Homo sapiens: one gene and its partner. The protein of the gene in region 1 purifies or fractionates together with the protein of each later gene. This does not show direct contact. Each region holds a gene or a part of one and is shown on either strand. Other genes may lie near its edges.

Region 1 (3,653 bases):
AAATTGCTGGGACAAAAATGATTATCGTAGAGGAAGTTTTGCTGCTGGCTTTAAAATTTTTATTATGAAGTGACTAAGGGTCTGTGGTTTTTAGCCTTTACTTCCTATAAGGTGTAATCCACCTGGAGAAGATATTTCTGGTCACATTTCTTTTGCTATTCTTAGGAGAAATTTGTGCCTGAATATACGTTGTGTTGCTTACCAGTTATTCCCAGTTGCTTACATTTTTTTAGTGTGTTTGTTTGGTATGTATACCAGGACTGAGTTGTAGACTTCTTGATTTAAAATGTGGGCTTACGTCCTACTCCTAGGATGAAATTGGTGTTAACCATGATTGCTGACATGCATGTTGAGTGAGAATTTGATAAGCTCTCTTATTTGATAAAGCTGAAATTGTTTATTAGAAACCTCAGGCATGGGAAAAGTGTGCTGTCTGTTTTGCCTGAGATTGGGCTTTTAAACTCTAAAACCTAACCTCTGAATTTTTTAATTAGACGAGTCTAAAGTCTTGTCAAGTTGTAACAATTAACAGTTTCCACTTTAGATGAAAGGAGAAAGAAGGAGGGACTCTTTAGCTGTTGGTGAGATTCAGACTTGCCCAGACTGTGCATTTCATTGAAATTTTTTTTTTTTTTGAGGCATTGAATGGGAACTGGTAATCAGAGATTTGTGAATGTGTAAATGAAGTAGTGCTTGTTTCACATCTCCAATTCTCCCTTTGAAGATGTCAATACTGAATGTACCATTGACTTATCTGAGTTATTATCTAAATCACAAAGCATTGTAGATATTGGTGCAAAGGCAGGAAGTCTTTTAAGTAGGTATTCCCTAGACGAATTTCATTTAGTGAGGCTTATCTCACTTTTCTGCGTCTGAAGCCACACTCTTTCCACCAAGAGTGAAGTTTTTTTTGTTGTTGTTTTTTGTTTGTTTGTTTTTTTCTGAGACAGGCGTCTTCGCTTTGTCACCCAGGCTGGAGTGCAGTGGTGCAATCTCGGCTTATTGCAACCTCCACCTCCCAGGTTCAACGGATTCTTCTGCCTCAGCCTCCCAAGTAGCTGGGATTATAGGTGCCCGCCACCACACCCAGCTAATTTTTGTATTTTTAGTAGAGACAGGGTTTCACCACGTTGGCCAGGCTGGAGAGTGAAGTATTTTATTAACTCAATCAGAGTAGTTAGATCAAGTATTTAATGTCTCAGAACATTTTTATTCTTGAATGTGTTTTCATGAATTTGTCCCAGCCGGGTGCTGTGGCTCACGCCTGTAATCCCAGCACTTTGGGAGGCCGAGGAGGGTGGATCACGAGGTCAGGAGTTCGAGACCAGCCTGGCCAACATAGTGAAACTCCGTCTCTACTAAAAATACAAAATTAGCCGGGTGTGGTGGCACGAGCCTGTAGTTCCAGCTACTCAGGAGGCTGAGGCAGGAGAATCACTTGAACCCAGGCAGCAGAGGTTGTAGTGAGCCGAGATCACACTACTGCACCCCAGCCTAGGTGACAGAGTAAGACCCCATCTCAGGAGAAAAAAAAAAAATTGTCCTATTACTGCTTAATTTTATCATGTGAGAGTAAGGTTATATTTCCTCTGGCTTCCCTTTTAAACTGGCTAAGACTGAATTATTTAGGTAGGCATGATAATGATAATTTTCCTTCCATACGGAAAGTACAAGAGTAAGGTTGAAGCCGAGTATGGTGGCTCATGCCTGTAATCCCAGCACTTAAAGGGGCCAAGGTGGGAGGATCGCCTGAGGCCAGGAGTTCAAGACCAGTCTAGGCAACATAGCAAGACTCCATCTCTACAAAATTTAAAGAAAAAGTGAAATTTAAATTTTGCAAATGCTGTAGGTCTTAATTGCAGTGCTGCTGTGGTTCTCTATCCAAAGCTCTGTGGGATAAGTCTTTTTTCAGTCTCTAGTATTCCTTGCCAGTCTGCCTCACTGTGAACGGAATCCAGTACAAGTGTTCCAAAAGTGGTTCTAGGCAAACTTTACCTCCCGGGCTTGGTAACACAGCTATAAACCACAGGAGATCTTTCTAAGATAAATAGTAAGGAAATGACTAGTCAAATAAGCTGTTTTAATTGTTGTCTTTTCTCAGGAGACAATGCTTTGTATGAGGCACGTCATCTCTTCCCAGTTAGACTGGGAACCTATTTCTGGGTTTTCTGTAATGATTCTCTGGAATGAATTGTCTTGTGCTCAGTACCGTGACCTCACCAAAGAATTAAGGTTGAAGAACTGATGTCTTTTTGATTAAGTGATAGTGTAATCATTTTATCCAAGTTTAACTGGTTTATCAATTATTCAGAGTGATAGTAGGGGTTACTAAACCTGTCCCTAGAGAATTGGAAAGAGATGTGTGTGTGGTGTTTTTGTTTTTGTTTTTCTGAGACGGAGTCTTGCTCTGTCACCGAGGCTGGAGTGCAGTAGCGCAATCTCAGCTCACTGCAACGCCTCCCGGGCTCAAGCAATTCTCCTTTCTCAGCCTTCTGAGTAGCTGGGATTACAGGCGCACGCCACCAGGCCTGGCTAATTTTCTTGTATTTTTAGTAGAGACAGGGTTTCACCGTGTTGGTCAGGCTGGTCTCGAACTCCTGACCTCATGATCCACCCGCCTCGGCCTCCCAAAGAGCTGGGATTACAGGTGTGAGCCACCACACCCGGCCATGGAGGGAGATATGTTTTTAAGTGTCCCTTGGTGAATCTGACTTCATCATAATTATCATGCCATGAGTTGAGCTTTCTGAAAGGTCTCTGGACTGATCCCAAAAAATCTGTTAAAAATTAGAATAACCAGTACAGCTTTACTTTTCACTGACCCATCTTTCTGTTTGAGATTGGTAGGATTGTTGTCATTGACAGAGTGAATACCATGGGGCATCAGTAATCAGGATGATAAAACTGACTGGTTTCCTGTGATTACCTTCTTATGGCATTTTGCTCCAAACAGACTGAGGGACCAAAATGGTCTGATAGAGAAGTGCATCTACCTCGGCAGACCTCAGCATGGTCCCTTCCCGTCAGACAGATTTCTGTAGCATTTGCCTCCGCGTGTTATATTTGGAATTGTTGGCCAGCTTTCCTCTCTCTGGTGTTGGCAGCGAGATCCAAAATGAGGTTTTCGAAGAATGAGAGTAAAAAGGTCTCTGTGCACAGGCAAAACTAAGCTCAGCTTGGAGTTTTGCATATTTTCAGTGAGTCGTAACAAAGGTTTCACACATAGAATAGAAAACTGCCTTGCAGAAAATGTTTGATGTTTGAAGTGGGGTTGTTTGTTTGTTTTTGGATACAGGGTCTCCAAGGCTTGATCCTAGCTCCCTGCAGCCTCAAACTCTGGGCTCAAGTGATCCTCCCACCTAAGCCTCCCAAGTAGTGGGACCACAGGAACATTCCACCATGCTGGGCTAATTTTTTAAATGTTTTTGTAGAAATAGGGTCTCACTATGCTGCCCAGGCACGTCAAGCAGTCCTCTCACCTTGGCCTCACAAAGTGTTGAGATTATAGGAGTGAGCTGTCATGCCCAACCTGTTTGAACTTTTAAGGAGGTGGTTTTTCTGATTTTGTTGTGTTTAGCTCCTCATTAGAATAGTATCAGGCAAGTGATAGATTAAAATATATTAACTTTAACATTATCTTGTCAGCATGTTGT
Region 2 (3,653 bases), on another chromosome or scaffold:
ATGGTAATGACATTCAGTTGTTGCCGACAGGGATCTAACATCCTACTTTATGCCTTCTTGGTCTTGAAATACATCATTTTCATCAGTTGATGGGAAGGTACATGATAAACAGCTTTTCATGAGTTTGAAACAATACTTTTTTGAATACAACAGCTCTGTTAGTTATTAGGTAGTTTTATTGTACTAACAGTGGAAAAATAGAGTGGGAAACTCCAGCATTATACCTTAAATGGGGCTTATAGAAAGATTTTTGAATATTTCTCAGAGTACTTGCTAGGTACTTGGAAAGTACAGGGATAAGGACTGGCCATATAAATCTTCATTTATTTATGCTAATTTCAGTTCGTTTTAGGAACTAAATGAATGAACATGTCCTTTGCTGAACACCACGCAGTTGGAAATACCTTTTGGGGTGCAGTTTTGGATGTTGTAAATACCTTTGCATAGCTTGGGAAATAAGAAGGTCATCAAGAGTCTGCAGATCCATTGCCGCATTCTGTACTTGATACTTATATCTTGGTCACAACAGGAAGAGGCAGGCTGTTTTATGGTGATAATCGATGTGTTCGTATTTGAATATGCACCAGAAAGTAAGGGAATGGAAATATTTTGTATTTAAATAGGTTTATTTATTTTATTTTATTTTATTTTTTGCGATGGAGTTTCGCTCTTGTTGCCCAGGCTGGAGTGCAACGGCGTGATCTCAGCTCTCTGCACCCTCTGCCTCACGGGTTCAAGCAGTTCTCCTGCCTCAGCCTCCTGAGTAGCTAACCACACCTGGCTAATTTTTGTATTTTTAGTAGAGATGGGGCTTCACCGCATTGGCCAGGCTGGTAATTTTTGTATTTTTAGTAGAGATGGGGTTTCACTACATTGGCCAGGCTGGTCTTGAACTCCTGACCTCAGGTGATCCGCCCATTTTGGCCTCCCAAAGTGCTGGGATTACAGGTGTGAGCCACCGTGCCTGGCCTGTTTTTTGCCTTTCTAACTTGAAATAACTTTTGGCACCAGTTTTTAGAATTCCTAATGCATACTTTTTTTTAGTATGAGGTATAATGAGTATGATAAATACTCCTCTGAAAAACCAAAGTAATGATTAGCTCTTCTAAAACCTGTCAGTTTCTATATGATGGACATTTGTTTGATACATTTCAAATCTAGAGTTTTCCTCAAGGTTTTTGGGAAAAGGCCTTATAGATCATAATTTGTAAGGCGTAAGAACAATCTCAAGTTAATGAAAGGTTATTTCAGACAAACTTCCACTGTTAGAGTTCAGAAAGTTTTTTCCCATGGAAACCGTGTTGTAAGTAATAGTAGCTGTCATTTACATCACTAGCAACTAATTTGTGCTAGCTGTTTTAAGTCACACGTACATTCATTTATCAAAATTCATTTATCATGAATAAATGAATACATACATTCATTTATCAAAATTCATTATAAAAATCCTTTGAGGTAGGCATTCTTTTTACCATCCTTTTATGGATGAGGAAACTGAGGGATAGAGACATGAAGTAATTTATACCTACAGCTACATAGCTAGTAAATAGTGGTGCTGTGATTGAAACCTGGGCATTGCAGATCTGGAGCCTATGTGATAACCAGTGTACTGCACTGCTTTATTGTAAGATAGTGGAATGCTGTAATCCACCTATATGTGAAATGAGTTTCTGTGAGTTGGCCTGGAAACCTAAGCATCATTAATATCCTTATTTAAGTGTTCTTTGTCACCGTTGACCATTACCTAGTTGAAATACATTCCTTTTCACTTCCATAGCACTGTACTTGCCTGGTTTTCCTCCTACTTTTCTGGCCCAACGCTTTTTCCTGTTCTTCACTGGTGTTTACTCCTCTTCTGTCTAATCTCTGCATGTTACTGTTTCCTCAGGGCTTGGGATTGATAAATTTCTTGTTCATTCCTTGCTTTCTCCTGCGGACTCACATCCACGTCCATGCTTTTAAATACTATCTCAGTGGAGATGCCCATATTTGAGCAGACTCTTCTCAGGACCTCAGACTCTTCTGAAAACCTGATCACATAACCAACTACCTCTTTGACCTTTTACTTGAGCTTAATGATATGCTTTCCCCACCCATCACACCTCTGCTTCTCTAGTGAGGCCCATCTCAGTAGTCATACCTCTGTCCACTTAGTTGCCCAGGCCAGATGGTGGGAGTTGTGTGTGCTCAGTCACTAAGACCTACTGTTTTGAATCTAATGTCTTGAAACTGTCTGCTTCTTTTGTATCCACTGCTCCAGCTGGTCCAAGCCACCATTATTTTTCACTTGGACAACTGTGGTAGCTTCCTAACTTAGTCATCTTGGACCTTTTCTTTCCTCTCTTCAATTCATTCTTCTTATACCATCCAGAGTGATTTTTAAAAACACAGATCTACAAGTTTGCTCTTGGTCCTTTGCTTAAAGCCTTTCCATGGCTACTCCTACATATTAGGGTCACATTTTTAAACATCTGTAATATGGTCAGGCGTGATATCTCACGCCTGTAATCCCAGCACTTTGGGAGGCTGAGGTGGGAGTATTGCTTGAGCCCAAGAGTTTGAGACCAGCCTACGCAACGTGGTGAAACCCTATCTCTACAAAAAATAAATAGAAAAAATTAGCCGTGCATGGTGGCGTGCGCCTGTGGTCCCAGCTACTCTGGAGGCTGGGGTGGGAGGATGGCTTGAGCCTGGGAGGTGGAGGTTGCCGTGAGCTGTGATGGTGCCACTGCACTTCAGTGTGAGCGACAGAGTGAGAACCTGTCACACACACACACACACACACACACACACACACACACACACACACACATTGTAATGTGCTCTGTATGGCTCTGCGTTTACTGACCAATTTTTTTTAATTTATTTTCTTTTTTATTTTTTCTTGAGACAGGGTCTAACTCTGCTGCCTAGGGTGGAGTACAGTGGTATGAACACAGCTTACTGCAGCCTCGACCTCCTGGGCTCAGGTGATCCTCCCAAGTAGCTGGGACTACAGGCATGTGCCACCACACCTGGCTAATTTTTAAATTTTTTGTAGAGATGAGGTCTTGCTATGTTGACCAGGCTGGTCGGGAACTCTTGGCCTCAAGCAGTCTTCCTGCCTTGGCCTCTCAGGCGTGAGCCACCATGCCTCGCACTGGCCTGTATTAAATTCTTTGAATCATCCTAAATTCCTTCTTACCTTAAGGTTTTCATACATCGTCTTACCTTCACTTAGATAACTCTCACCCTATCCCCACCTCCCAGACTGACTTGTTAAGGTATCTCATGTGAGAAACCTGCAGTATTTTCAACCCTCACTCCTTGTTGCTTTGTGCAATGGTATATGTTTTCACAGAATATTTTATTTTACTTTCATATTCTTAGAAATATATACCTATGTATTGTTTATGTAATACGTATCTTCTTCAGAATGGAGGTTATTTGAAGAACCCCTATGTGTTTTGCTGTTATATTTGTAGTACTTAGTATTTACTTTAATCCATGGCATATAGTTGGTGCTTAATACATACTTATATCATGAAAGCCAGAACTCTGCTTCAGTGTGGGAATTGGAAGCCCCTTTCTTCCTGTTGCAGCCTCTAATGCCATTCCCCCTCTACCCTGTAGTTGGGACCAAGATGAAGGGTAAGTTTGTGATTATCTTTGGT

What was found. The genes of interacting proteins can lie anywhere in the genome.
Region 2: the proteins of PHF12 (region 1) and QSER1 purify together in Homo sapiens (affinity purification with mass spectrometry, with the first as the bait; one large-scale study listed by BioGRID). This does not show direct contact.

Annotation. Positions count from the first base shown.
Region 1 is NC_000017.11:28,944,870-28,948,522, reverse strand, and holds part of PHF12 (PHD finger protein 12), read left to right. Parts: intron 1-3,653.
Region 2 is NC_000011.10:32,895,719-32,899,371, forward strand, and holds part of QSER1 (glutamine and serine-rich protein 1), read left to right. Parts: intron 1-3,653. UniProt on the Homo sapiens protein: Plays an essential role in the protection and maintenance of transcriptional and developmental programs.